Homo sapiens: one gene and its partner. The protein of the gene in region 1 purifies or fractionates together with the protein of each later gene. This does not show direct contact. Each region holds a gene or a part of one and is shown on either strand. Other genes may lie near its edges.

Region 1 (15,244 bases):
TGTGGAAGTGTACATTTCCGCCCAATATCGGGGATCTGTTTCTTCGTGTTCTTTTTCTTAGAGGCAGGTAAGAGAGCTCTCTCCTGGAGTGCTTGCTGATGCTTCACCCTCCTGCCAAATCTAGAGTAGCTCTTCTCTGGGCCTGAGTCACAGCTGGTATAACTGTGGGGTTCCCTTTTCCTCTCTGGAGAGGAATCCCTGGTTTCCTGGATCCCATTTTCCTCTGTCTTATGCCATTCTCTCTTTATAGTGGGAAAAGGTGCAAGGGAAGTAATTTTTGTAACCTTTCATGTCTGAACATACCTTTTTACCCCGCTGGTCTTATATTCTTTGATGGTTTGGCTTAATACAGAATCCTAGTCTGAAAATCATTTTCCCGCATAATTTTGATGATACTCCTTTTTGTCTTCTGCAGCAAATCTAGCTGTGGAGAAGTCTGATGCCATTCTGTTTCTTGATCCTCACATGTGAACTATTTTCCCTTTGGAAACTCTTAAATCTCTTTTTTCCTGGTGTTTCTGTGTTTTAATGATGATGTTTCTTTGCGTGGGTCTTTTTGCACTAATAGTGCTGGGCAGTGGCCCCTTCAATCGGTCTCCAGTTTGGGGATTTACAGAATTCTTTCCTTGGTATTTTCTTCTCAGCCTTCTGAACATCAGCTTAATTGGATGCTGGAACCTCGTGGGCCACTGAACCTATATTGATCCTCAATTTCTCTTATCCTTTCTTTCCTTTTGTCCATGTCTGACATTTTGTTTTACTTTCTGGGATATTTACTCATTTATGAAACAACCCTGATGTGGAATTTGTTTACATCTTCTATATTTTTAATTTCCAAGAATTCGTTCTTGATCTTGGGATGCTCTTTTCTATATTCTTGTTTTGTTTGATGGATCCAGGCAGCACCTTCCTCTCTGAGATATGAGAGGGAATTATTACTATTATTTTGTACCCTGCATTTTTTCCCCTTAATTTCCTTTGCATCTGTTTTTGTTCCTCTTCCGTATGTCAGAAACTTTCCTCATGTCTGACAATCAGTGGCTACCAATTCAAATTTGAATTATATGCCCATGTGCATGCACACGCGCACACACACACACGCACACACATGCACACACATGCACACGCATGCACACACGCACATGCACACACATACACTCGCACCCACGCATGCACCACACACGCACATGCATGCACAGATGCACACGTACACCTGCACGCGCACCCACACACACTGTCGCACCCATGCATGCACCACACACGCACATGCATGCACAGATGCACACACACCTCACACACAAGCACGCACACATGCTCATGCACACACAAGCACACACACACACGCACACACACACACAGCTGACTGGAAGGTGTGTTGAGCAGGCAAGCCTGGTTAGCTAGTGAAGCGCCGTGGTAGGGAGAATAATGGCCCCCAAAGATGTCTATGTTCTAATGCTCAGAACCTATGAATAGGTTATGTGGCAGAGAGAGGAATCAAGGCTGCAAATCAGTTCATTTTAAAATAGGAAGATTATTCATGGGCCCAATGTAATCACAAGGGTTCCTAAAAGTGGAAGAGGGAGGCAGAAAAAGACAGAGAAGGAGATGTGAACTGGGATCCAGGTCAAAGTGTTGAAGGACTCCACTTGCTGTTGCTGGCTTTGAAGATGTGGAAAGACTGCCATGAGCCCAGGAATGTGGGCTGCCTCTAGAAAGTGGGAAAGGCAAGAAAATAAATTCTCCCCTAGACAGTACAGAAAGGAACACAGCCAGCAGACAACCTGATTTTAGCCCAGTGAGACTCATGTTATACTTACGAAGTTTAGAATCGCAAAACAATAAACATGTGTTTTTAAAACCACTAGGTTTGTTACAGCAGCTATGAAAAACTAATACATTTGCAGGTTAGGGACCCACAAGTATTACAGCTAAGGAGGGAGGGAGGGTCAAAGCAGCCAGGAAAAGGTGCTTGAGACCTCAGCTAGGGAGAAGAGCAAGAACTCCCTGGACTTCAGCAGATTTCATGGCTAGGTCCACCGTGTCTGCTGTGTCTGTCTGCAGAGTTCCACTGCCTTCTCAACAGCCCAAAGGGCATTCCCTTGGAGAAGAATTTGGGGGTTCAGATTCTAATCCTGAACGTACTTCTTTCTCCAGTAATTTTTTCAGGGTTTACCTCAGGCCTCAGGCTCTGCAGAAAAATAACAAGAAACCTTTAGAATCCACATGCATTCTGTCTCTTGGTCTGTTTCTATGAGTTTGGGTGGAGATTGATCCACCTGATTGAGGCCTCAGCAGAACATCATCCGATTTCCCTGTGCTTCTTAAGGGTTTGGATTAGGGAACAGAGTTTGCCGGCTTTTTCATCTTGAATCACTTATGGGTGGATATAAATGACTATATGTATTTCTAACATTTTGTCTTTTTAAAATTAATTTTTAAATTAAAAAACCAAATAACTAGAAGCAATTTGCATAGTTGTTAAACTATAAAGCATAAGTAACTGAATACTACGAAGTTATGACTCAATTTAAAACAAGCACATTAGCTAAAACAATTGAAGTTCTTTGTGTGTTTTTCCAACAGCTCATCTTTCTAACCCCTCCCACAACCCAGTATTTATCCTTTTTTTTCCAGTTTCACTCTTTTTTATAAAAACTTTTGTATTGTAGAATATAATATGTTGAGAAAGTGCCAAGTAAGGCTTATTCCAAAGTGAGTACGCATGTGGCCATCATCCAGATCAACAGAAACATTCTCGCACCCAGAAAACCCTTTGCATTGCCCTTTCCATTTCCTTCGCTAATTTAATTTAACATACTCTCTTCTGTATTTTACATTGTTTTATCTTTCCATGTTTTCTTCTGGGTATTTTTCATCAGTCTATAAGTTCAGTGAGTTGCCTGTTACTCATTTTTTCAGTGCTTGTCTTGTCTCTTAATTTCAAGGAGTGCTTTGCCTAAGAATATGTAAGGAAAGATAGGCATCTTTTGTTCATTTCATGTGTTGTGTAAGTATCTTCTCCCAGTCTGTGGCTGATCTTTTCACTCTCTTAGTGATGTCTTTCAAGGAATAAAGTCTTAACTTTAAAATATTTAGATTTATCCAATTTTTCCTTTATAGCTGGTCTATCTTTGAACTTCCACTTCGGATCATTTCCTTCTGCATGGATAACATCTTTTAGAATGTCCTTTAGTATGGGTCTGCTATTAATGAATTCTTTTAGTTTCTGTTTATTTGAAAATGTTTCTATTTTATTTTTATTTTATTTTATTTTATTTTATTTCTTGGAGACAGGGTCTCACTCTGTGGCCCAGGCTGGAGTGCAGTGGCACAATCTCGGCTCACTGCAACTTCCTCCACCTGGGTTCAAGCGATTCTCCTGCCTCAACCTAGCTAGTACTACAGATGTGCACCACCATGTCCGGCCAACCTTTGTATGTTTAGTAGAGATGGGGTTTCACCATGTTGGTGAGGCTGGTCTTGAATTCCTGACCTCAGGTGATCTGCCTCCCTCGGCTTCCCAAAGTGCTGGGATTACAGGTGCGAACCACTGTGCCTGGCCAAAAGTGTTTCTATTTTGAATTCATTCTTGAAGGTCATTTTCATCAGGTACAGGCTGGCTCTTATTTTCTTTCTATTGTCTTCTAACTTCTGTTGTTTCTGTTGAGAAGTCAGATTTAAGTCTAATTGTTACTCTTTGGAAGGTAATTGTTTTTTGTTTGTTTTTTTACTCCCTCAAGCTGCATTTAAGATTTTCTCTTTGTCTCTGTTTTTTGTTATTTAGCATTTTTACTATAATGTGTATAGATATGGAGGTGATACATATATGTATGAATTTAAATATATATATATTTTAAATGTTTTTGGCTTAGAGTTGTAGAACTTCTTAAATACGTGGCTTAATATTTTTCAGCATTTTTGTAAAGTTCTCAGCCATTCTCTTTAGATTTTGTCTCTGCTTCATTTTCATTCTCCTTTCCTGGAATTCCAAGTATAGGTATGTTGGATTCTCTTACTATATCCTCTCTATCTCTTACTCTTGTTAAAAGGAAGAACTTTTGATATATTTCACAGAGTTTAACTGAGCAAAGAATGATTTGCTTAGTTGTGAATTGGGCAGCCCTCAGAACGTGAGGAGGTTCAGGGAGCTCACTCTGCAATGTCAGCAGGGAATCTTTATAGACAGAAAATCCCAAGTGAGTTACAGTAACAGTTTGATTGCTGATGGCTTGGCACTTGCTTTATTTGAACGCGGCCTGATCACTTGGCTGCCTGTGACTGGCTGAAGGTTGGCTGCTGTTATTGGCTGACACCCAGCTGTTTGTTATGAAATACTCCTAAGTTAGTTGCAAGTTTGTTTACATACTAAGTTAGGTTGCAATTTTTTTATGTAGGGACTTAAGAAAGGAGTCAGCCTCAGCCCAAATTTAATTTAATTTAACATTCTGTCTCCTGTATTTTGTCTCTCCATGCTTCATTCTGGGTGTTTTTCATCACTCTATAAGTTCTATAACTATTTTTAGATTTATTGATTTATTGATTCATTTTAGACGGAGTCTTGCTTTGTTGCCAGGCGGGAGTGCAATGGCACAATCTCTGCTCACTGTAACCTCCGCCTCCTGGGTTCAAGCGATTCTCCTGCCTCAGCCTCCTGAGTAGCTGGGCGTGTGCCACCACGCCCAGCTAACTTTTGTATCTTTAGTAGAGACGGGGTTTCACCGTGTTGGCCAGGATGGTCTCGATCTCTTGACCTCGTGATCCACCCACCTCAGCTTCCCAAAGTGCTGGGATTACAGGCGTGAGCCACTGCACCCGGCCACATCCATTGAGTTTTAAAAGTATAATCAGTTTTTCAGTTCTGAAATATTCTTTTTTTACATATATAGTTCCAGTTCTCTGCCAAAATTCTCAATACTGTCTTTTGTCATCTTAAACATGTATACGTGGATGTTTATTTTTATTTTTGTTTTTTTGAGACAGAGTTTTGTTCTTGTTGCCCACACTGGAGTGCAATGGCATGGTCTCGGCTCTCTGTAACCTCTGCCTCTCAGGTTCAAGCGATTCTCCTGTCTCAGCTTCCCGAGTAGCTGGGATTACAGGTGCCTGCCACCACGGCCAGCTACTTTTTTTGCATTTTTAGTAGAGATGGGGTTTCTCCATGTTGGCCAGGCTGGTCTGGAACTCCTGAACTCAGATGATCCGCCTGCCTTGGCCTCCCAAAGTGCTGAGATTACAGGCGTGAGCCACCGCACCCAGCCACATAGATGTTTTAAAGTCCATGTCCAATAGCTCCTATTTTTTGAGTCCTTGTAAGCCTGTTTGTATTGCCTGTTTTCTCTTAGCTCATTTCCTTTTCTTATTGTGTGCCTGTTATTCCTCATTGTGTGCTGAACATTATTTTTGAAACATTGTTTATTAAAGCAATTTGAGGGCTAGGGTAATATCACCTTCCTCCAGAGAGGATTTCAGCTTGCTTCTGCCATGCATCTCAGGATGCATAACACTGGGAGTTACGCATAGGATGACTCCAAGCTATCCTTGGAAATACCCTCTTCCAATTTCAGAGGTACAGGATAACTCTTGGAGTTACCCTCCTCCAATTTCAGAGATTGAGATAGCTTAAGGCTGAACTGCAGTTGCCTTGAAAGGAGTCTTCTTCTGTTCAGTTTGCTCCTAGGGTGCAGCTTTTCCATGATCTCAACCCAAAAGGAAGAGGGTTCATCAGGCCACCAGCCACACACAGGCTCACCCTACACCAGGGGCCTCTGCACTCCAAGGCAGGTGCACTCAGCCCCGCAGGCAACCACCCGCCTTTCATCCAGCTCCTCTAGAATCCACACAGGCCTCGGGTGGAAAAGTGGTCCTGGCTGCTGGCTCTTCTCCCTGGGCCTCTGGTCTCACTCCTAGATCTTTCCCTACTAATTCATCATTATCTTGTTACCACACTAATGAGCTAATAATGCCTTCAAGAGCAATTTTTAGAAGACCTTATCTACCTCTTTAATTTCTTCTCAGATGGAAGGTTGTTCTAAATTGCTGAATTCTGCACGATCAGGAGCAGAAGTTCTCTTGGGACTTTCAGCAAAAGGGCTCTGACCACTAGCATTTATTCTTTAACACTTAATACCAGGTCGTTGTCCAGGAGGCAGGCGTTGCAGCTGAGAATACCCTTGATGGGGGTGGGGGTATTCAGTGTGCTGCGAAGAGATTCTGAAGAAACTTTGGGTCATGGTCAAACTTCAGTTACAGCCCTTTGGTTCAGAGATCGGCTCAGGAAAAAAAACTTGTTGTTTTCTTTATACATTTTTAAAAGGCTCTTAATACTATGGATTCTATAGGGTTCTTTCAACTGGAATTGTGTCTATGTGGATACATTTCTCTTCAAGTTATAAAAATGTAGTTAAATATCTTCTAAAAGAGAAATAAATGCCCCAAAACATATTTTAGATTTAGATTTCCCAACTTGGAAAATAGCTAAAAATATTTTTGTGAACTGAAAGCTGCTCTCCTGAGCTCCCCTGCATAACGTGACTCAGCCATGAAAATGCATCACTGGGCTTTCTCTGGCTTTCTGTGCCAGGGCTCCAAATATTGGGAGTGTGCACTTCTTAACCTCAGAGAATGTATAATCTAGCTAAAAGCAGACACGTGAAACCATCTAAGGTGATAAATATGCATAAGATGGTGTAGTGAAATGTACATATTTTATAGCATCCAAGTCTTCTAATAGCAAGAAAGAACACTTATGAATTATTCTGCTTCACTGATTGCTTATTTATCATAAATGCTACAGTCAGTGCATTATTGGAGTTGTTGACTACCTTTGGCTTCCTCTGAGAAATTTTAATGTACATGTACAATCCAAAGAGTTGTATTTATTAATAACCACTAGGACCTATAAATGTGGTATAAAATAACAGGCAAGAGAGTAGGCCCAGGAGCCAGACTGGCTGGGTGTGAATCCAGGGCTGGCTACTTACTAGTGTGGTGAGCTTGGTTAAGTCATTTGACCTCACTAGCCCTCTGTTTGCTGTTCTGTAAAGTAAGGATAAAAACACCTATCCCGTGACATGTTTTGCAGAACAGCTGGGTTCGTGTACATTATGCATTGAGAATAAGGTCTGGCACATGGCGGAGCACTCCATATAAATTCTTATTCTTCTTAGGCAGGCATCCCCAACCCCTGGGCCACAGACCGGTATGGGTCTGTGGGCTGTTAGGAACTGGGCTGCAGGAAGTGAGTGGTGGGTGAGCCAGTGAAGCTTCATCTGTATTTACAGCCACTCCCCGTCGCTCACCTTACTGCCTGAGCACCACCTCCTGTCAGATCAGGGGCGGCATTCGATTCTCATAAGAGCGCGCATGAATTCTATCGTGAACTCCACATGCGAGGGATCTAGGCTGCATGCTTTTTATGAGAATCTAATGCCTGATGATCTGTCACTGTCTCCCATCACCCCCAGATGGAACTGTCTAGTTGCAGAAAAACAAGCTCAGGGCTCCCACTGATTCTACATTAGTGAGTTGTGTAATTATTTCATGATATATTAGAATGTAACAATAATAGAAATAAAGTACACAATAAATGTAATGCACTTGAGTCATCCTGAAACCATCCCCCTCCTCAGTCCATGGAAAAATTGTCTTCCATGAAACCGGTCCCTGCTGCCAAAAAGGTTGAGGACCGCTGTTCTTAAGGTGCAATTATGGTTAAACATTTACCAGGGGGAATTGAAGCATAAACAGAAGTATACTTTGTGAATTATTACCAACAACATCCACATAAAGTGGGAAAGAGGAAAATCCATTTTATTCCCAGCCAAGAGACATTTAAAGCACATACCCTCCCTGCCCCTACTCAAATGGGAGGTGTAGAAAGCACCCTCCTCTTTGTCCTTCCAGAATATCTTTTTGATGTGTCTTATACTCACATCTGAAAAGGTCAGCTGGTGACATTTCTTTCTGGAGGCAATTTTACTGAAAGCATTTTCACTTTCTCAGTGTGCAGGGACTGGAGGCTCAATGAAGAGGATACAGCTATGTCCACATCATGTCAACTCTCACTGATTGTAGAGCTGTTCTCCCACCCAACTCAGTCCTCTCTCCCTCTACCCCTAACAGGAACATTTAACTCTGGTTATTGACTACATCTCATTGTGATTACTGAGCAAATTTATTAAATAGCCTGGGATAATACTTTTTTTTTAGATGGATTATTGCTCTGTCGCCCAGGCTGGAGTGCAGTGGTACAATCTCGGCTCACTGCAACCTTCACCTCCTGGGTTCAAGTGATTCTCCGGACTCAGCCTTCTGAGTAACTGGGAATAAAGGTGTGCACCACCATGCCTGGCTATTTTTTTTTTTGTATTTTTAGTAGACACACAGTTTCGCCAGGTTGGCCAGGCTGATCTTGAACTCCTGACCTCAAGTGATCCACCTACCTTGGCCTCCCAAAGTGCTGGGATTACAGGTGTGAGCCACCGTGCCCGGCCCTGGGACAATACTTGAATGGGGCTCCAGGGACTGATTACTATCCATCAAAACATTCTGTCCTATTGAAATATAAATTTATCTGAAGCAGACACATGAAAACATGCTTTCCCATATAAGCCCCCATGCACTGGGCAACTTCCCTTCTGCCTAGCCCTTTAATGTTGGTGTTCTTGAAGCTTTGGCCTCAGTGCCTTTTCTTTGCTCTCACATTCTTCCTGAGAAATTGCATCTACTTTAAAGATTTCCTTTCCCACCTATTTGGATCTTTTGCTTGGAACTTTCTCCTAAGCTCCAGGTCCATGGATCCTACTTCCTGCTGGACTGCTCCCATCTGGAGATCCCACAGGCCCCTCAACTCAGCCCCTGTTTCTGAATCCCCTAATTATCCTCTATTTACTTGGTCACTCAAGCCAGAGACTTGCCCTGGCCTCCTTGTCTCGCTGTACCCCGCCTGATGATTGAGCTCAGCTCATCAAGGTCTGTCACCTGCAGCACTACAGCAATCGCTTGTCTGGCCTCCAGTTTTTAAAATCCGTCCCACAAAACATGACCAAAGTGGCCAATCTGATGACACCATCCCTTGGCTTAGATTCTTCAGTTAACATCCTGATCAGTGACGTAGGCACAAGAATCTCCTAGAATGGAAGTTCCTGGGCCCCACCCACAAAGATTCTGATCCAGCAGACCCGGAATGCGGTTCAAGAACCAACACATTTAACACTCAGACTGCTCTGGGGCAGGTGGGCTGTGGGCATGTTCTAAGACGCACAGCACTGCAGGATGTTCCAGCGCCTCGATGTGGCCCGGACACTCACCGTCTTCTGGCATGCAAACACCTCTCTAACCTCATCCATGTCTAACCCCTTCATGTCCTAAAGTCCAGCAGGCAGGGTCAAGGACTAGGGTGACATTAGGCCAGGCCTGGGAATGCCTGGATCTTGGCCTGCTGTTCACTCATTGTTGCTTTGAGGGTCTAATTGGAGGAGCTCTGTCCCCAAGCTCTAATAGGCAAAAGTAAGAAAAGTAACCCATTGTTAGTAGCTCAGACTAAGCCCAATACCCTTGAATTCATGGTTCTCTTATAAAAACTGAAATGCTGAATATGGCTTAGCAGAGGATAATTGGCAGGAAGCAAGACTTTCCCGCTGTGTCAAGAGATGGGAATAGGCCAAGTCTACAAAGCTGACCTGAATCCATTTGTCCAATTGGTGAGCCTGTCTGGCCTATCCCCAGGGGCCAGACCCTGCCCTCGCCCCAAGCAGTAGATGCAAGAGCAGAGAAGGATGGTCAAGTCTATCTAAGGAGACAGGCTGTATAGAAGTGTTCTGATTGCATGGGAGCAAATTTTAAGAGAAGTACCATGCATGGATAACAATGTTCAAGCCACAGTAACCGCACACTGGTAAACTGTGGTTAAACTTGGTGCAAAAGTAATTGTGGTTTTTGTCATTATTTTCAAATGGGTCTTAAAAAGGAGTGTTGGGGGCCAGGTGCGGTAGCTCATGCCTGTAATCCCAGCTCTTTGGGATGCTGAGGTGGGCAGATCACTTGAGGTCAGGAGTTCGAGACCAGCCTGGCCAACATGGTAAAACCCCATCTCTACTAAAAAATACAAAAGTTAGCTGGGTGTAGTGGTGGGTGCCTATAATCCCAGCTACTCCGGAGGCTGAGGCAGGAGAATTGTTTGAACCCAGGAGGTGGAGGTTGCAGTGTGCTGGAGGTTGCGGTGTGCTGAGATGGCACCACTGCACTCCAGCCGGGGTGACAGAGTGAGACTCTGTCTCAAAAAAAAAAAAAAAAAAAAGATTGCTAGGGGAAGGCTGGAAGCCCAGGGAGGAAGCAGGTGTTCCCTGCCCAGCAGTGATTGCTCCCTGGTTGCTGGAGGAACGATGGAATCAGAGTCACCCGAGGACCAAAGCTCCACACCTCTTGCTATCCCAGACTCTCTGGAACACCAGGAAGAAAACATATTTGGACAAAAATTATTCTTTGCAACATTAGAACTTTTGATTCTGGAATGAGACAAGGAAATATGTATGTATCTCAGAGAGACAATGAATTTTTAAAAGGAAATTGGGACCGTTTCTCAGGGTGAGATGTCTTATCCGGTTAACTGCGAGCCCCCAGGGATTTCTACTCAGAGTGTTCATCACATCAGGTTTCCATTCTCTACAATAAAAACATGGCTAGGGAGAAATTACCCAGCACTGGCAAGAAAGAGCTCCAAAATAGAAGCAGCTTTTGAGGAATTTGGAGGGATAAAACGGAATAGTATGTCTGAAAGTTGGCAACATGTAAAAAGGCTAAAAATGACAATTCTGCCTGTGATACTATGTCTAGTGTGCAACGCTTCATTCAAAAGGCAGGCACGTCTCCCCTCCAGGCGGGAGTGGGAATCTCAGTGGGGAACCGGGAACTGCGTTTGAGCTGATGCAGACTCAGGGTCAACTCGACAAGGGAGCCCGGCACCCAGACACAGCGGCGTTCACCTCACCTTGCACCGTCTTTGTCGGTCTTACAGGCATCAGCTTTCCCAGCCTCATTTGAGCCGGGATCTGAGTTGCATTTCTTTCTGGGTCAGGCCTTGCCATTAGGGAGAGATGAAGTCAACTGATGAGCGTGCCAGCCTTGAGGAAGGACAGAGTGCGGGAAGCAGAGTGTGGGAAGTTGGAAAAAATAATCTGCAAGGTAAACACCTTCAAGTCAATTTCAAGAGGCTGGCTAGAAACCGCCAGGACTTCAGGGGGCCCTGTCTCGCGGGTCTCCCTGCGCCCTCAGCACTTTGGCTTGGTATAAGGCCACCTTGTCCCTGAAGAGAGGCCTATTTTAAGCTGAGCAAGAAAAGGTGAGAAAGACTAAAATCAGCTTTGTGCAGAGACGCCAATTTCTGCTGCACACATGGAAACGATGTGCACATACAGCGAGCTGGCCCAGCTCCCGGCCACGTGGCTCACACTGTCCGTGCTCACCCACCCGTTGCCTTCACCCCCAGCAGCACTGGTTGTGAAAAGGGTAACTGCCTGAGCCACCCCACCACTGCGGGCCTGCCAAGGACAGGCAGGAACTCAGCCATGCCCCGCAAGGAGCCCAGGGGCATCTCCAGGGACGGCTCCCCAGCCTATGGGCTCGCTCCCTGAGAGGCCGTGCTCGGGCTCGCCTGCTCAGCTCACTCCGAAAGCCTCTGCTCAGACCTGCACCCAGTCACAGCAGCACAGATGTGCAGGAGGAGACCATTTCCACGGACCCTCCGACTCCTAGGAGGCAGGTGAGGAGAGGGGGAGGGAGGGGACCAGCGCTGGTGCTTCAGGTATGCTCTGGCCACTGCGATTCACTCTGCTTTGTGCTTGGGGTTTCACACGCATCTCGGCGACTGTGTGCGGAAAGTACAGTCGTGACCATGCGCAGGTGAGGCCTGGAGGAGGTCAGCTAAACTGCTCTCTCTCAATGGTTCTGAACCCTGAGAGTACATCAGAGTCACCTGGAGGACTTACGAAAACACACACTGCAGAATTTCTGACTTGGTCGATGCAGGTTGGGGCCAAAAATGTGTATCTCTAACAGGTTCCTGGGCGATGCTGACGCCGATGCTGTGCGTCCTGAGCCACACTTGGGGAGCTACTGCGCAAGCTCGCACAGCTAGCCGACCGCTGAGCTGGGGCTCAGACCTGGGTCAGTCCTGGTCCACAGGCCAGCCCCTTTCTCACGTCCCCTGGTGAACGGCGGCATGGTGGCCTCATGGACACTGAGCAGGGCCCCTAGGGAAGCCTGTATGGAGGCCACTTCACTTTGAATGGATCTGGGATAGAGGAAGGACGCGAGCTGTGGGAGCCTGGGTCCTGGGCACAGCGGGCATGTCATGGCAGGGTTCACCAGCCTCCTTTCAGCAGTTCCCTAGTTCTGCCCCAGCTACCTGTGGTTGGTGGTGGGAGGTTTATTTGTTAGTTCCTTCAGCAGTGACTCACCACACTTACTGAGAGCTTACCGTGTGCCAGGACTGCCACAGGTATGGGGATGCAGAGTGTCCACAGCCCCCCAGAAGATTGATGATAGCACCCTCCATGTAGGAAGGGCTGTGACTGCAGACAGGGCATGGGGCGGGGCACCTGTGTTTGCCACAACCTCTAGAGGGTCCCTTCATATTCACGTCTGTGCGTGGGGCCCTCCTCCACCCAGATCTGCTTCCGCAGCACAGCCACACAAGTCTACAGCTGGTGACTGTGGCTGGCAAGCAGGGGAAGGTGGGTGGGGGCGGCAGCCGTGGGCTTTCCACTGGGTCCCAGCAGACCAAGTCCTGGTACAAGGAAGCACGGGCTGGCACTGGCAAACCCTCCTCAGGGAGCAGCAGGCCAGGAACCTGGGCTGGGACTAATTATTGCTGAAGAGAGAACAGGGCCAAGTGTCCCTCATGTCCCCCCAGCAGCCGGGGCAAGCAGAGAAAGAAATGTCGGAACCGGGGAGAGGCCCCTGCCTCTGCACAGGGCTAAACATCATGCCAGCTGGCAAGGGAGAAATGGGTACAGGGCCCAGGGGCATTATCACAGAAGAAGGCAATGAAAGGTGCGTTGGGGGCTGAGGCAACCCATTATAACTGCACACATCACACACCAGGGATCCACTAATTTAGACTACAATGTGAATGGTCTTTTGAAACTGAGATGTGTGGGGGCCCAGAGGGAGGGATCCACCCAGCTGGGAGGAGGTTAGGGAGGTCTTCCTTAAAATACTTCCTGTTCCGTCTCAGAGAACCCATGGACACTGGCCAGGGGAGGGAGAGGAAACACGTCGCAGGTGGAGAGAATCGCTTGTGTGAGGGCACAGAGCGGGGCAAGAAGACAGTGGTGGGCTTTCCCCAGGAGCTGTTCGGCAGAGGGAAAGTGGATGCTGAGCTCTTCCTCTTCCCTGGAGCAAGTCCCATTTCCTCAGAGAACACGGCCCCCTTGGGCCAAAAGGACATGAAGAAGCTCTTGCTAATGCCAGCCTGGCTCTCCTCATCCCGCCCCCTGCACCCCTGCCCTTCTGGCTGCCCTCCCTTCTCCTAGCTCTGTCCCCTCTCACTTCAGGAGTCTCAAGTCCTTCAGACTACTCCAAAGTCGGGGGATCTCTGGATGGGTAGGAGGTGATCTCACCGCCTCCTCTCTTGCCCGGGCTTGTCGAGATGAACTTCCTGATGCTGGCGGCGCTGAAGCTGACACTAGCGGGGGCACCTCCCTGACATGAACGCCCCTCGAGACTGGGCCAGTGCTCCTGATGCCTGGGCACCTGCGGAAAGGCACCCAGCGTGGCCGCCGTGGCATGCCTTGAGTGTGTGGGTGGGGACTGTTGCAAACTGACATTCCAGCTGTCCCAGTCCATTTTGTGCTGCTCTCACACAACCCCGGAGAGTGGGCGATTCACAAAGGACAGAAATGTATCTTCCCACAGCTCTGGAGCCAGGTGCCAGCAGGTTCTGTGCCTGGTGATGGCTCCAGTCTCTGCTTTCATGATGGTGCCTTGCTGCTGCGTCCTCCAGAAGGGACAAAGGCTGCCGTCCTCACATGGCTGAAGGTGGAAGGGCAACGAGTGAATGTACTCCCTCCACACAGCACCTACATCAGGACACCTGATTCCATTCATGGCCTAATCCCCTCTTAAGGCCCCACCTCTTAATGCTAGCACATTGGCAACACCTGGATTTTGCGGGGGAAACACGTTCAAACCATAACACCATCTAAGGCTGCTTCTGCCTGAGACAAGTGTGCTCATGTCTGCCTCAGAGACGGGGCCAAAAGCAGCTTGCTCTGCCCTGCCCTGGAAGCAGGACAGAGGATAGCTGTCATCTCTCCCTTCCAATGCCAGCTCATTGTCTCAAACAAAACTTGGCCCCTTGTGCCCTCTAAGGAGTGGGTTCCTGTGCAGGGGCTCCAAGGTTCTTTGTGATAATAGACCAGGGAGGGCAAGTTGGTTCCCTCTCATGCTTGGCATCCAGGTGTTTGAGGGTAGCTGCCCAGGGCCCTGTGTTGAGGGCACTATGGTCAGAGCTGGAGCAAGGGGGGGCTGGGTGCATGATGAGTTTGCATGGCAGCTGGAAGTGTCCCCTCTGAGTGGCTCCCTGGATATCCCGGGACCACTGGCCGTGTGCAACCTGAGTCCCGGCATGAACTCCGCTGGGACCCTCCTTCGTGTTAACGCTTCACTTTTCAAACAGGAAATAGAAGGAAAACAAAGCTGCTTTCTAACAAACACTTTGATTTTAAAGCCAGAGTATGAGTCAGAAACATCATCCATTGCAGCCAGCTTTACATGGGAATAGCCCAGTTCTTCAAAAGAAGCAGCTGTCATTTCATGGCACCGAGGCATCGTGTTTCCAGAAGAGCCACAGTCCCTCTTGCATTAAGATGGGTTGTGACGGACCTCTTAGAGAATCCGACAGTTTCGGGTTGGAAAGGGGATCCCTTTTGTTCTGTCTGGACAGTAAGGCAGTGCATCATCTACAGGTGCATCCGCTGCATGGCTGCTGGCTTGTGGCCTGACAAAATGCCCAGCATTGAACCAGATGCATAGGTGTGAACTCTGGAGAATCCTGTTTTCAGTGGCTGGAAGACGGAGGTGTAGGCACCAGCTCAAACTCTTCACCTCACGCCTTCTATCCTGCAGACCCCAGCAGGCCACATGGTGACCTTCTATGTCCATCTGGGACAGCAGTCAGCTGCCCCTGCCTCTGCGGGGAGTGAGCAATGGGCCGCAGGATCACTTGTCCTGGGCAGCTCTTCTG
Region 2 (15,424 bases), on another chromosome or scaffold:
TTCCCCCTTTTCCCACACGTGGACACCCTCCTCATCCTGCCTGGGCTCTGACCCCCACTTTGGACTGCCCTTCTGTGGAGAAGCCCTGTTCACCCTCTTCGTGCTTGAAACTCCCGCACCAGACTCCTCCTCTTTTTGGATGCCCTCCTCATTCTGCCTTGGCTCTGATGCCTCCTGCTCTTTGCACATGTGGATAATCTCCTTACCCAGCTTGGATTTTGATTCCCTATTCCAGGCTGGCCCCCTGTATTGTTGCCCTCCTTACCTCAGTCAGGCTTTGATTCCCCATGCCAGGTCAGTCCCCATTTGGAGGCCCTCCTCACCCAGATTGGCTCTGATGCTCTACACTGGTCTGCCCTGCTGTGTGGGTCCCCTCTGACTCTGTCCACATCTGATGCCCTATGCTAGGCCACACCCCCTATGCCTGAGCAACCCCCAACATCTCAACCCCTCAATTACCCCAGCAGTTGCCCTCCTCAGTCTGAGCTCTGACTTCCCTCTCAGTTTCCTAACCTTTAGATGCTTATTTTTACCCTGCTCCCTCTCTTTACCTCCCAGTGGCTTTAGGAATGGTTTAGGAAGGGAAGAACCCTTTGTTATCTTTAATTCTAATCCCTCCTGCCCTGAATTAATTTTTCTTTACCCCTCATTACCCCTCCCCCAACATTTGTGTCAGCTCTTAGCCTTCAACCTAGATTTTGTACATTTGGATTTTGATTCTGCCCTGACCAACTCACCTTGATTCTTTGCCTTGTCTAATTGTTGGTCTTTAGGCTTAAATTTTGTTTATGCAAATGGTAATGAGTCAGTCTTCAGAGAGAACATTGTCCAGCCTTCACGGAGCACCATCCCACTTCCAACCTGCTTCCCTCCTTCTTCACCCTGTCCAGGGTCAGTCCCTCAGCTGGAGCTTTAACTGAAGCTTTTCTCAATCCAGTTTTCTTTGGTATTTGAAACTTCAGGAATTATTGTTGAAATAGTAGCATCAGTAAGACAACAGTAAGATTGAACTGGGAGAAAATTATACACAAGAAAATGATATTTAAATTAATCATGCTTGGAATCATGAGTGTAGTGAAGGACAGTTAGAATCATGTATGACATACAGAGCAGCTGAACTCTAGGAAATAGTGTATCTGTTTTTCACACAGAAATATTTTTAGGAAGATATTGAATGTTATCAAAAATTTAAATGGATTCTTAAAAGAAGAGAAATTAAGTATAGAACTTAAAGAATCAAATAATATGTTATTTATTTATTTATTATTTTTTTCGAGATGGAGTTTTTGCTCTTGTTGCCCAGGCTGGGGTGCAATGACACAATCTTGGCTCACTGCAACCTCCACCTCCTGGGTTCAAGCGATTCTCCTGCCTCAGTCTCCTGAGTAACTGGGACTACAGGCGTGTGCCACCACACCCAGCTAATTTTTGTATTTTTAGTAGAGATGGGGTTTCACCATGTCAGCCAGGCTGGTCTCGAACTTTTGACCTCAGGTGATCCACCCACCTCGGCCTCCCAAAGTTCTGGGATGACAGGCACGAGCCACTGTGCTGGGTCCATGTCATGTTTTTATATGGTGCTTAAAGGTTTTATTATTCCTCCTTTTTTTGTCATTGGGAAGTGGAGATGCAGAGATATTAAATGACTTGCCTATTGTTATGTAGCAAGTTATGGTACTTCTGGGTCCACAGTCCTCATTTTGGAACTCCTTGTCTGGTAATGTTTTAACTGTATTGGTTGTTGGCAGTGGAAAGAGCTTTAACGTAGGCAGATCTGAGTGTAAATTGTGGCTCTGCCATAATTCAACTAGCTATGTGGCCTTGGACAGATTTTTTTAAGTTTAATTGTTAATATATTTTTACTTTTTTTTTTTTTTTAACACTGCTGAGCCTATTTCCTCATCTATTGAAGGTGATAATATTAACCAGTGAGGATTGACTAAGAGGCACATATTACATGTGTGATAAACATTAGTTCTTCTTCCATCCTTGTGGGTGGATGTCAGAAGTTATTATGGTAATCTAGTACAAATCAAGCAAATAATTTTTTTTTTTTTTTTTAAGACAGGGTCTCGCCATCTTGCCCAGGCTGGTCTTGAACACTTGGGCTCAGGTGATTCTCCTGCCTGGGCCTCCCAAAGTGTTGAGATTACAGGTGTGAGCCATTGTGCCTGGCCAATAATATGTTTTGAACTGAAGTAAGCCAGATCAAACAATCATATAGAAACAGGAGATGGAATACATTTTCCTATAAGATAGGCCATTTAAGAGTTCTTAAAAACATGAATATCATGTAGGGCAACAATTGTGAGTTTGTAGCAGGGTGGGTTTGGCTAGAGTCCTCTGGTAAGAGGAAAGTAGAACGTGCATTCATCCAGCAAATATTTATTGAATGTTTACTATGTTGTAAACATAGGGGATACAGTGATAAAACAGTCCCTGACTTAAGGAAGTGGAAAACAAGTATATGGTTAATTTGATTCCTGTGCTTCTGTAAAGTTGTGACCAGGTGCTATGTGGGACCATAAAAGGGAGCACCTGATTTAGCCTGAAGAACCCAAGAAAAGCTTCTTAGTAGAAGTGTCAACTGAGCAAAGTCTTAAAGATACAGTAATCCAGTGGGAGAAGGGATATATAGCATTTGCGGCAGGGGGAATAGTGTATACAAAGGCACAGAAGCTTAGTAAGTTAGGGATACTACCTATGGTGCATGAATTTATGTGACAGAAGATGAGGCTGGAGAGGTAAGCTCTTTCTTCTTAGGAATTGGAAGGTTATCAGGAGGCTAAAACCATAGGGAGTCATTAAAAGATTGTGAGTGGAAGAAGTTCAAGGTTAAATTAATGTTTAAGTAAGACTACCTTCTGGCAGCATATAGAGGGTAATAGGAGATATGTTAGTCAAGGTTCTTTTAATGCAAGGGGAAAAAATAATTTAAAGCAGCCTGAGTTAAAGAAGCAGTAATTTCATGTCTAAAACACCAAAAGCAATGGCAACAAAAGCCAAAATTGACAAATGGGATCTAATTAAACTAAAGAGCTTCTGGACAGCAGAAGAAACTACGATCAGAGTGAACAGGCAACCTACAGAATGGGAGAAAATTTTTGCAGTCTACTCATCTGACAAAGGTTCATCCAGAATCTACAATGAACTTAAACAAACTTACAAGAAAAAAGCAAACAACCCCATCAAAAAGTGGGCAAAGGATATGAACAGACACTTCTCAAAAGAAGACATTTATGCAGCCAAAAGACACATGAAAAAATGCTCATCATCACTGGCCATCAGAGAAATGCAAATCAAAACCACAATTAGATACCATCTCACACCAGTTAGAATGGCAGTCATTAAAAAGTCAGGAAACAACAGGTGCTGGAGAGGATGTGGAGAAATAGGAACACTTTTACACTGTTGGTGGGACTGTAAACTAGTTCAACCATTGTGGAAGTCAGTGTGGCGATTCCTCAGGGATCTAGAACTAGAAATACCATTTGACCCAGCCATCCCATGACTGGGTATATACCCAAAGGGTTATAAATCATGCCTCTATAAAGACACATGCACACGTATGTTTATAGCGGCACTATTCACAATAGCAAAGACTTGGAACCAACCCAAATGTCCAACAATGATAGAGTGGATTAAGAAAACGTGGCAGATATACGCCATGGAATATGTGTATATTCCAGCCATAAAAAATGATGAGTTCATGTCCTTTGTAGGGACATGGATGAAGCTAGAAACCATCATTCTCAGCAAACTATTGCAAGGACAAAAAACCAAACACCGCATGTTCTCACTCATAGGTGGGAATTGAACAATGAGAACACACGGACACAGGAAGGGGAACGTCACACACCAGGGCCTGTTGTGGGGTGGAGGGAGGGGAGAGGGACAGCATTAGGAGATATACCTAATGTTAAATGAAGAGTTAATGGGTGCAGCACACCAACATGGCACATGTATACATATGTAACAAACCTGCACATTGTGCACATGTACCCTAAAACTTAAAGTATAATAATAAAGTAAAAGCAGTAATTTATTATGAATACATAGGGATGTCTCAGGGTTAGGGCACCTGGACCTCAGGGATGGACTGGAAATCTGAATAGGAACTCCTGTCGCCTGCCTTTGCTTTGCCCTGAGTGTATGTGCCTCATTTTTTCTTCCCTTCCTGTGCTTTGCCTATGTGGTGAAATACTGCCTTTTTATAGTTGCCTAACGTTACCATTTCAGGCATACTCCCAGATTGTCTGTGAATGTCTCTGAATCCTAGTTCAAATTTTTTAAGAGAGAAAGTCATTGCTCAAGCGGGGGTAGATGTCCCCTGCCCTGCCTCCAGTCAAGTATGGCTACTATAAACTTGACTGTCAGGCCCCAATCTCTGTGTGTGGTTGAGGTGGCAGAGAGTGGGAGAGGGAGACACATTCTGAGAAGATGGGAAGGTTGTGAGCTAGGCAGACACCACAAAAGGTGTTTTATGCAGGATAATGGTAGAAGTAGGGGTTATCACTAAAATCTAGGCACTAGGTGTTGAGGGCCTGAGCTAAGGTTAGTTAGGTGCAGTGTAGACAGAAAGAAGAAAGTGGATTTAAGAGATACTTAAAAAATAAGTAAACATAATTTGATACCTCATCAAATATAGGAGGCTTGTGAGAAGGAGGAAGTCTACATTTCATATTTAAATTACTGGGAATCTGGAGAAGAAATATTGAGGAGGATTGAGTTTTATGGCAAAGATACTGAGTTTGGTTTGGACACGCTGTATTTGTGGTCCTATGGAATATTAAGTATTGCTGTTCAGTAGACACCTGAATGTAAGATTTGGAGTTCAGGAGTGAGATTTCCACTGAGATTTGGAACTCATCTGGGTAGAGTTAGCAGCTGAAGCTGTGAATCTGGATAAATTCACATAGAAGACTATAGAGTGAAGAATGGAATCCAAGGACTCTCAGTATATATAGGAATAGAAGAAGTGCTTATCAAGTAGCCAGTCTGTGACATTAGACAAGGAAGGAATATGGACTTTAACGTTATGGAGAATGTGAACATAGGATATGCTAAAGCCCTGAAAGATAAAATAGGGTCCATGGCTTACTAGTTAATAGCAATATGTACTGGGTACTGTGCTGTTTTACTTATTTCTCGCAGCTACTAAACTCTTTATTATTCCTACTTTAAGGATCAGACAACTTAGGCACAGAGAGGTAACTTGCCCATAGTTTTACAGCTGGGTGGTAGAACCAGGATTCTGCACTTAGGAAGCAGGCACAGTGGTTCACGCCTTTGGTCCCAGCACTTTGGGAGGCCGAGGCAGGTGGATCACTTGAGGTCAGGTGTTTGAGACCAGCCTGGGCAACATGGTGAAACCCTGTCTCTACTAAAAATACAAAAATTAGCCGGTGTGGTAATACATGCCTGTAGTCCCAGCTACTCAGGAGGCTGAGGCAGGAGAATTGCTTGAACCCGGGAGGCAGAGGTTGCAGTGAGCTGAGATCGCGCCACCGTACTCCAGTCTGGGGGACAGTGCGAGACTCAAAAAAAGGGTCTGCACCTAGGCTGGGCCTGGTGGTTCACGTCTATAATTCCAATCCTTTGGGAGGCTGAGGCGGGCAGATTGCATGAGCCCAGGAGTTCGAGAGCAGTCTGGGCAACATGGCAAAAACCCTGTCTCTACCAAAAACAGAAATTAGCCAGGCATGGTGGTGTGTGTCTGTAGTCCCAGCTGCTCAGGGGGCCGAGGAGGGAGGATGACTTGAGCCCGGGAGGTGGAGGTTGCAGCGAACTGTGATCGTGCCACCATACTCCACCCTGGGCCACAGAGTGAGACCCTGTCTATTTAAAAAAAAAAAAAAAAAAAGAGTCTGCACTTATCCACTGTGCTTAGTGCCTCAAAGGAAATTGAGGGAGATTCTGACTTAGCTAGTTAGTGTAGAATATGTTACTAAGGCGATTATGGTAATGGAGGGCAAACTTTTTAAAATTTTATTTTTAATTGTGGTAAAATACACAGAAAACATAAAATTCACTATCTTAATCATTTTTAAGTGTATAGTTCAGTAGTGTTATGTGTATTTGTATTGTCGTGCAGCCAATCTCCATAACTTTTTTATCTCATAAAATTGAAACTATACTCATTAAATAGCTACTCCCCATTTCCTCTTCCCCCAGCTTCTGGCAACCACCATTCTACTTTGTATCTCTACGAATTTGGCTGCTCTAAGAACCTCATATAGGTGGAATCATATAGTTACTGTCTTTTTGTGACTGGCTTATTTTACTTAGCATAATATCCCGAAGGTTTATTCATGTTACAGAACATTGTTAGACTTTCCTTTCTTTTTATGGAGGGCAAACTTTTATTTATTAGAACAAATTTTTATAGCCTTTACATATTGAAGAGGATATTATTATCTTACTGGTTTTGAAAAAAATAATTATTTCAGGGATGGTGACATATTTAGACTCCTTATAACCTCTATAATGTAAATTATATACATTAGCATAATTATCTGAATGTCCGGGATAAACATTTTTAACAAGAGAATATTTAATAAGAACTTAAAAAGCATTAAAAACAAACAATACCTTTTCAGTTCTTAACTCATTTGTTTAAGAAGGACAGCTGTGGTGTATTTTTGCCCTGTAGTGATTTTGTGATCCATGGGATTCACAGATTTAAAATACAGTTTTTGTAATATTTACAGGAATGCCTAAGGTCATTCACATATTTTTTATGAAGTTTTGTTATGGAGGCTGGTGCGTTTGGTACTGTTTGGAAGCATCTTATCTAACTGGTGAAGGAATCTAACGATGCCCTGCATTTATACCTCTGTTTAGGGATGTGGTCAGAGTCTTCTTACAGTTTTGAATATGACAGTGGAGTCCAGATTAGCTCCCCAGTTCACTACTTTTGAACTTTAGGAAGTTAGTTAAGTTTTCTAAGTTTGAATTTTGCTACTTGTAGAATGAGAATATTAGTAGCTCCTACCCCATAGCATTCTTCTGAGGATTAAATGTGGTAATGTGAATAAAGTGCTTAGCATGGTGACTGGCACATAGGAAGTGTTCAATGAATGTTATATGTGACTGTTATTACTGTCATGATGTTTGGTATACATGCGTTTGAAGAGTCCCAAATGGTCTACTGTAGCTGGAAATCCATTCCATCCCTTGTTTTAATAATAATTATTTGCTTTAGCTGAATTGAATTTAGGAAATATTAATCTGTACTGGATGCTTCAGAGGATTCAAAGTTGAGTAGAATACAATTTCTGCCTTCAAGAAACTTATACTTAAGTGTTTAAAATGGAAAAATTTTATCTATAGTGATTTTGGAATCTGCATCTTCTAAAATGTTAAGTTTTGAACTAAAAGTATAGGAATAAATCCAGGTGAGAGTATGGTTTAAACATTTTACAACCATCTTAAAATTTCTATAAAATAGTCTTTGACTTGTGCATTTTGTTTGTTTATTCCAGCCAGCACCTAACCAAGTCACTTTTCATCTGCCACTACATCGTTACTATGCTATGTTTTTGAGTAAGGTAAGACTGTCATTAAACAATTCTGTTCTTTTTTTTTTAATTTTCAGAAATAAGAATTGAATTAGTAACTTTTTTATTGTAATTTTTAGGCTGTGAAATGTCAAGAACTAGATTTGGATTCTGTTTTACCAGATCAGGAAATGTTAATGAAACTAATGATTCACCCACTCCAAATTCAAGTATGTATTCAGGCATTTAAAAAGTTTTGAAGTGGATTCCTTGTTTAAGTGATTCTTCCTTTATTTATATGCCTTTCATTGTTATTATAGCTGAGATGTTTGAAAACTTTTTTTAAAAAGTTGTTATTGTATTTTTGCTAGATTATGTTTAGGTATTTTTCATTTTATGAGATTTACTTTTTAGTTTTACTTTTTCCAGGAATTCTTTTCATGATATTTGCTTATGGGGTGGTATTTAACATACTATATAGCACTGTTTTGGGAGTCAGGAGATCCAAAAGATTCTAGCCTTGGTGCTACCACTGTTTTATTTTCCGCAAGGTTTAAGGTAATTCACCTCCTTGATTCTCAGTTTCCCTATCTGTATAGTGAGAGGAGAAAGAGGAGAGAAGAATTAGCTTATATAAGCACTGTGATTTCTTTTAATACCAGCAATGTAATTTGACAGGCCAGCTTTTTATATACATTAGAGGGACTTGCACTTCCATTTGTTTTTCCTGGCAATTTTAGATTTGTTAATTATTATAATATTGAACTTGAACTCTGGGTGTTAGGAAACATAAAATTATGACTGCTTGAAGCCAGGTGTGGTGGCTCACGCCTGTAATTCCAGCACTTTGGGAGGCCAAGGCGGGCAGATCACGAGGTCAAGAAATCGAGACCATCCTGGCCAACATGGTGAAACCTTGTCTCTACTGAATATACAAAAATTAGCTGGGCATGGTGGCGTGCACCTGTAGTCCCAGCTACTCGGGAGGCTGAGGCAAGAAGAATTGCTTGAACCTGGGAGACAGAGGTTGCAGTGGGCCAAGATCGCGCCACTGCACTCCAGTCTGGCGACAGAGTGAGATTCTGTTTCAAAAAAAACAAAAAAAATGATGACTGCCTAGTTTTAGTTGACACTGGACATAAATACATGAAGAATTAAATACTGATGTAGTGAGAACATTTATTCTAACCTCCAATATTTGGAAAATTAGCAGTATAGATTTAAGATTGAGTTAGGGTGAATTAAAGATGTAGAATGTATTCATTGACTTTGAACAGTTGGTTTTATTTTATGCTTATTCTAGTGTCTTTCTTTAAACATGTATATTAGGATTGTTGTTGTTGTTACTTAGGGTTTTCTTGAGGGAGAAATAGAGTGAAACATAAGCATTGATTTCTTATGAAAGATGTCAGTGAAAATCATCATAAATGTATCCAGAGGCCAACATGGAAAACCAACTCATTTGTTTAAACTCTAAAAAAGTGGCTATGTAAAAACATAATTATTGTTAAAAAAAATGTAAAAATGTATATTTCAACTGATTATCTTTAACATTGGACAGAATATCGGGCTTATACTATGATCACATCATTAAATATTTTGAAATGGTTATTTATAATATTTTGTAAAGATTGCATTTAGATAATTTATTCTTTGTCCAATTTACTTTTATTAGGCAAGTCTTGCAGAAATCCACAGCAATATGTGGGTAAGAAATGGTCTGCAAATCAAAGGACAAGCCATGACGTATGTCCAGTCTCATTTCTGTAATTCCATGATTGATCCTGACATTTACCTGTTACAGGTAAGCCAGCTAGATAATGCAGATATACTTTAGAAGTGTCTCATTTGTACCCAAGGGATTTTAATTTATAGAGGTGACTGCGTGATGACATGGAGAGGCCAATGCCATTGAAAGAATAATTTTTTACTTACATTTCCCAGGAGAAGAGGCATACCACCCAACACAAGGCTACAAGGAAAGCACCAGATTTTGGTCAAGAGGCAGAAAGGAGTGAGGGGAGAGCCTAGGCCAGAGCCTTTATTGGGGTTTCTGCAGGAAAGGCAAGGAAAGGCAAGGCAGGATTGGCTAATTTGAATAATTCCAGCAGGCTTTGAGGCATAGGGGCTGTATCTGGCTCTGCGGTACCTGGCCCTGGGTTGATTTAGGGGAGGGGAAATACTGGGTTGATGTGTGAGAGTTAGATAAAGACAGTGGTTGGCTTGCATGACAGGCATTTTCCCAAGTAAGTTGTTTAGTATGTTCAGGAATTAACTGGCTCTGGGAGGGACTATCTGTCTTCAGGTCTGTAATGCCCCTCAAGATGTCAAAACATCATAATATACAGAAAATAAAAATCATAGCCAGGCGTGGTGGCTCATGCCTGTTATCCCAGCACTCTGGGAGGCCAAGGCAGGCAGATCACTTGAGGCCAGGAGTTTGAGACCAGCCTGGCCAACACGTCGAAACCCTGTCTCTACTAAAAATACAAAAATTAGGCAGGTGTGGTGGCACACACCTGTAAATCCCAGCTACTCGGGAGACTGGGGGATGAGAATTGCTTGAGCCTGGGAGGCAGAGGTGGAGGTTGCAGTGAGCTGAGGTTGCACCAGCTTGGGTGAGAGTGAGACTCTGTCTCAAAAACAAAAAACAAAAAACAAAAAACAAAAAAAAGTATAGAAAAACATGATTAATAGAAGAAGGAAAACTGAATATTGAGAAATAAAGCATTTTGTTTTCTTTTAAAGGTTTGTGCTTCTAGACTTGACCCAGATTATTTTATTTCATCCGTCTTTGAAAGGTAGGCATAATTTTATTAAGACAGGTATTAGGAAGTGTCCAGTTAATTTTGTTTTAATTTATAAAAATATGTTTCAAATATTTCTTCTTGTAGATTTAAGGTAGTGGATTTGTTGACAATGGCATCACAACATCAAAATACAGTACTTGATGCAGAGCATGAGAGGTCGATGTTAGAAGGCGCTCTTACATTTCTTGTGATTCTTTTGAGTCTTCGTTTACATTTAGGTAAAACTCACTGATACTAATACTTATGCATTAACTGTTTTCCTCCCTTTCTCCCCCTCCCTGTGGTAGTAACTGGCTTAGGGAAAAAAGGAAAGGATGTAGATAAATGTAAACAATGTTTCAAACTCTTGATATGTTGTACTGTAGGTATACCTTTTAGAATATCCTTTGCTTAAGGGAACTGCAAACAGCAGTTAAACTGCAGTTATGTTTGGAGCATAGCTTCTTTACTCTTTAATTTGAAGCATCTTATATTTGGTAAAACAGCTTAGTAAAAAGTGTGGTAAGTTTTTTTCTTTATAATTTATGTATACTCAGATTTGTTAATTCCGTTTTTAATAATTTTAGGAATGTCTGATGATGAGATTCTCAGGGCCGAGATGGTAGCCCAGCTGTGTATGAATGACAGGACACACAGTTCATTGCTGGACCTCATATCCTTTTAAAATTTTACTTTCTGTTAGTTGCAGGATCTAAAATAAGTATTTTTTATGATTAATAGTTTATCAATTTTTTGATTAATTTTTTTTCAAAGTTGAAAAATAATATAGAAAAAGAAGAACACCAGTTGTGTGCTCAAGTATGTATTCAAGCCTGGTGACTGTTTTTTTTTTTTTTTAACCTCCTGTTATTACCTCTTGGGGAACTCTTCTTAGACTTTAGGGTAGATTTCAGGACTGAATGATGGCTTTGGCCACCCCAGCATTTAACCTCCTAGTGGACAGCATTACTGAACGTTTTATAAAAGGCAGCTAGGTCCATTTTGTCTGTGTAGCCAGGATGCAATTCATGGTTAACAGTTAAAGGTATACCTTACGATTATTATTACCAGGATTTTAAACATTTTGAGGGTTTTTCTGTAGAATTTGGTCTTAAAGGATTTTTGAATTTATAGATTTTTGTGTACAAACAGGGAACCTGTGGTTCTTTGTATAGGACTGAACATACAATGAGAATCTGATTATCTTTTTAAGTTAATGTTAATAAAATTTTACACAAAGATTATCAAGTAATTTTGTGATAAAAATTCTGGCCGAATTTAGTATTTGTATATCTTATGACTATGTTTGGAAGAATTGGCTAAACTTTTTATTTTGTGAAATAAGTCCTATTAGAATGCCTGTTTGACAACCTTGATTTTTGTAAGCAGCCTCAATTTGATACTGTCTGATGATTTCCTTCAGTCATTATGAACTATGTGTCAGTGCTATTATAGAGTAAAAACGATCTCTGTGTCTTTCAATTTTAAAGATTTATGTGCTTTAATGTGAGGAGAGAATCTTTTTGGTTTGCCTCTTTGCTTATATTTGCTTAGTATTTTTTTCTTTGGGGATGAAATTTTGTGTTTTTGGAAAAACAATCTTTGCTCATAAAAATCTTGGCTAATTTTTCACAAGTTCTTTCTGTTTTTTAAGGAAAAGTTATTTACAAAATGGTAAAAATGAAGACACATTTTTAAAAGTTTTTCTATCGTTTTCTGAAATTTGATAAATTTATTTCGGGGAAAATATACCTGGGAACTACTGCAGCATACAATTTATTAGTAGGCTCCTAGATTAAACATATTTTCAAAAATCACAATTAAAAACAGTTATTATTGATCTGTTGTATTATATAGCCCTCTTGTGGCCAGCTTTGTATATTACAACCAATTACTATTTGTCTACTTCAGCAAAATGAGAAACTAGAGTACCTTGGAAAGGCTATAAATCTGGCTTTTTGTTACTAATATTTTTTTCTTGACATATATATCATATTCCAGAAAATCCTAATCCCAAAAGTGGCATTATTCCAGGCAGTTACAGCTTTGAATCAGTTTTATCAGCTGTAGCTGATTTTAAGGCTCCTGTTTTTGAACCTGGAGGTTCTATGCAACAAGGCATGTATACTCCCAAAGGTATGTTTATATACATAAATGGACTCTTTCAAATATCAGTTCTTGAATGGTGAATTCTTCTGTGTATTAAAAGAAAATGTTTACCTTTTATTCGTTCAAGCTTTGGTTTTCTTTTCTCCATTTTGTTATAAATGTATGTCTTTATTGGTAAACAGTGATACTGCTTTCAATTACTTAGAAATCTATAGCTTTATGTTACACTAAGACTTCTTAGATGACTCTAAACTATAAAGGAAATTTATATTTGAACTCTAATTCATTTTTATAAGTGATCATAACCATAAATGAACCAGAAACTATAAAACAAAATGTATATTAAAAAATATTTTGAATGTATTTACTCTCCAAATTTGATTTTGAAACAGCAAAAGAATCCTCACGACCCAAATTTTAACTTGAAATAGTTCAAATTAAAGTCTGTATAGGCCGGGTGTGGTGGCTTATGCCTGTAATCCCAGCACTTTGGGAGGCCGAGGTGGCTGGATCACCTGAGGTCAGGAGTTCGAGACCATCCTGGCCAACATGATGAAACCCGTCTCTATTAAAAATGCAAAAAAATTAGTCAGGCATGGTGGCAGGTGCCTGTAATCCCAGCTACTCGGGAGGCTGAGGCAGGAGAATCACTTGAACCCAGGAGGTGGAGGTTATAGTGAGACCCTATCGTGGCCACTGCACTCCAGCCTAGGCAACAAGAGTGAAACTCCATCTCAAAAAAAAAAAGTCCACATAGAATGCTGATAGCACTTACTTACATTTTGAACCTATGTTAAATGCACAGAACGTTTTCCTTAAGTGGATGATTGGTTTTGGAAGGTTTCTCCCGCATAGATTCATAGTTGACATCCTTGACAGCAGCCAGAAGTAAGTGAGGTTTTGATTTACACAGTCTTTTTTTGTTTGACTTTCATATTTTCACTTCTCTAAGTGAAAATTTTGAAGGAAGTAGCAGTTACGTGCTTCTTGACTCCCTCAACACGTTGTCTAAATGAAAAACCAATGCCCATTTTGAAGTTGTAAATAATATACACTGTACTGTGTGTGTTTGGCAAAGCAGAACAGAAAAGCCTTATTTGGGATTTTTCAGGGAGTTCACAAGGAGCAAGAAAATCCAGTCTCTGGTTGGAAAGTATTCCATTAAAAGAAAAGCACAGTATTTTTTTAGTGTAGAGGATATTTTGTGTGTAAAATTAGATGAATTTGGGAGTGGAGTGGTGCTGTGGTGTAGTGCAGTGCTTATAAAAGTGTGATGTGACGATTACATCTCTGTCAGACTCACTTGCGCTCCTCATTAAGAATGCAGGCCCCTGTGTCTCACCTCCTATCTGCTATCATCAGAATCTCTGTGGGTGAAATCTGGGAATCTGCTTTTTAAAACAAGCTGTTTAGATGACTGTTCTGAACAATGCTGAGATGGAATACTGGGCATTCGGAGATTAGAGCAAGGAAATTGAGTGTCATATTTAAATACCATATGAATTATATTTGCTAGTTGTGTGGTTTAGGAAATTAGTTGTTTTTTTTTTTGTTATTTTTTTGGAGACAGAGCCTCACTTTGTCGCTCAGGCTGGAGTGCAGTGGCGCCATCATAGCTCACTGCACCCTTGACCTACTGGGCTCAAGTGGTCCTGCCACCTCAGCTTCCCCAGTAGCTGGGACCATAGACACCCACCACCATGCTGGCTAATTTTCATGTGTTTTGTAGAGACAGGGCCTTGCTGTGTTGCCCAGGCTGGTCTCGACTGTTGGGCTTAAGCAATCCTCCTGCCTCAGCCTCCTAAAGTGCTGGGATTGCAGGTGTGAACCGCCATGCCTAGCCAGTTTTTTTATCTTTGGATTTGGCTTCTTATCTGTAAAATAAGTTTTTAAACTTTTAAAAGTGGTTGAAACAAGCCTCTGGTTTCGGGGACTAAGCCTTAAGTGAATTTGTCATATTAATATAAAACCAACAAAAGCTGGCTTACTCCTGTTAAAGTGGGTGTGGGTAGTGAACCTAGCTTCTTCTCTGTCCTGCTATCTACTTGCTCCTAAAGTGGCCCCTGTTATACATCTGTGGTAATTCAGCTCCATGGAACACTGTTTGAAGCCCACTGGACTAATTAATCACTGAAGTTTTCTTCCATTGCTAAGGTTGTGCAATTCTGATAAAAGCTTTGGCATGTTAATTATGCAAAATAATAGACTTTAAAGAGAAGGACGATCAAGGCCGGGCGCAGTGGCTCACGCCTGTAATCCCAGCACTTTGGGAGGCCAAGGTGGGTGGATCACGAGGTCAGGAGATTGAGACCATCCTGGCTAACATGGTGAAACCCTGTCTCTACTAAAAATACAAAAAATTAGCCGGGCTTGGTGGCGGGCACCTGTAGTCCCAGCAACTCAGGAGGCTGAGGCAGGAGAATGGCGTGAACCTGGGAGGCGGAGCTTGCAGTGAGCCGAGATCGCGCCACTGTACTCCAGCCTGGGTGACAGAGCGAGAATCTGTCTTAAAAAAAAAAAAAAAAAAAAAAAGGACGATAAATGATTCTAGAAATACTAATAAAGATCTTTGTGAAGGACTGTCTTCAGAATTTTAAGTCATACTTCTGATACTTTAAGATGAATAGCTTGTTACATGAAACTAGGGACAGTGGTTAACAATGGTTAACAGTGTCTTGTGCTAGAAGGTTGTAATTATAGTGGATGGTTAGGGAGAAGCTTAAGCTTCTTACCATGTTTTCAAATGTTAAGAATTTTGCTAGAGAGAATGAGAGAAAAAAATCTATTAAGGAGATACTCTTAAGGCGGTGGTTTCTAAAATTATTATCTCAGTTTATCCTTTAGATTTTTGCCACATCTAAATAGCCTCTCTACTGAAATATACTTAGTATTTCACTATTTTTTAAAATGAGTTAACTTAAAAAAAACCTTGCCTCTTCCTAAGCGTGATTATTAGTGAGGTGTCATGAATTTTATTTGCAAGTTACAATTTTCTAATATACATTATACACATTAAAAATAATTACA

Evidence for each region.
Region 2: the proteins of TP53AIP1 (region 1) and UBR3 purify together in Homo sapiens (affinity purification with mass spectrometry; 2 studies listed by BioGRID and IntAct, with this or other methods). This does not show direct contact.

The regions. Positions count from the first base shown.
Region 1 is NC_000011.10:128,939,308-128,954,551, reverse strand, and holds the start of TP53AIP1 (p53-regulated apoptosis-inducing protein 1), read left to right. Parts: upstream 1-11,680; 5' UTR 11,681-11,708; coding exon of another isoform or gene 11,709-11,758; intron 11,759-12,054; exon of another isoform or gene 12,055-15,244. UniProt on the Homo sapiens protein: May play an important role in mediating p53/TP53-dependent apoptosis.
Region 2 is NC_000002.12:169,916,445-169,931,868, forward strand, and holds part of UBR3 (E3 ubiquitin-protein ligase UBR3), read left to right. Parts: intron 1-7,484; coding exon 7,485-7,550; intron 7,551-7,639; coding exon 7,640-7,729; intron 7,730-9,174; coding exon 9,175-9,303; intron 9,304-10,247; coding exon 10,248-10,300; intron 10,301-10,393; coding exon 10,394-10,527; intron 10,528-10,875; coding exon 10,876-10,961; intron 10,962-12,282; coding exon 12,283-12,424; intron 12,425-15,424. UniProt on the Homo sapiens protein: E3 ubiquitin-protein ligase which is a component of the N-end rule pathway. Does not bind to proteins bearing specific N-terminal residues that are destabilizing according to the N-end rule, leading to their ubiquitination and subsequent degradation.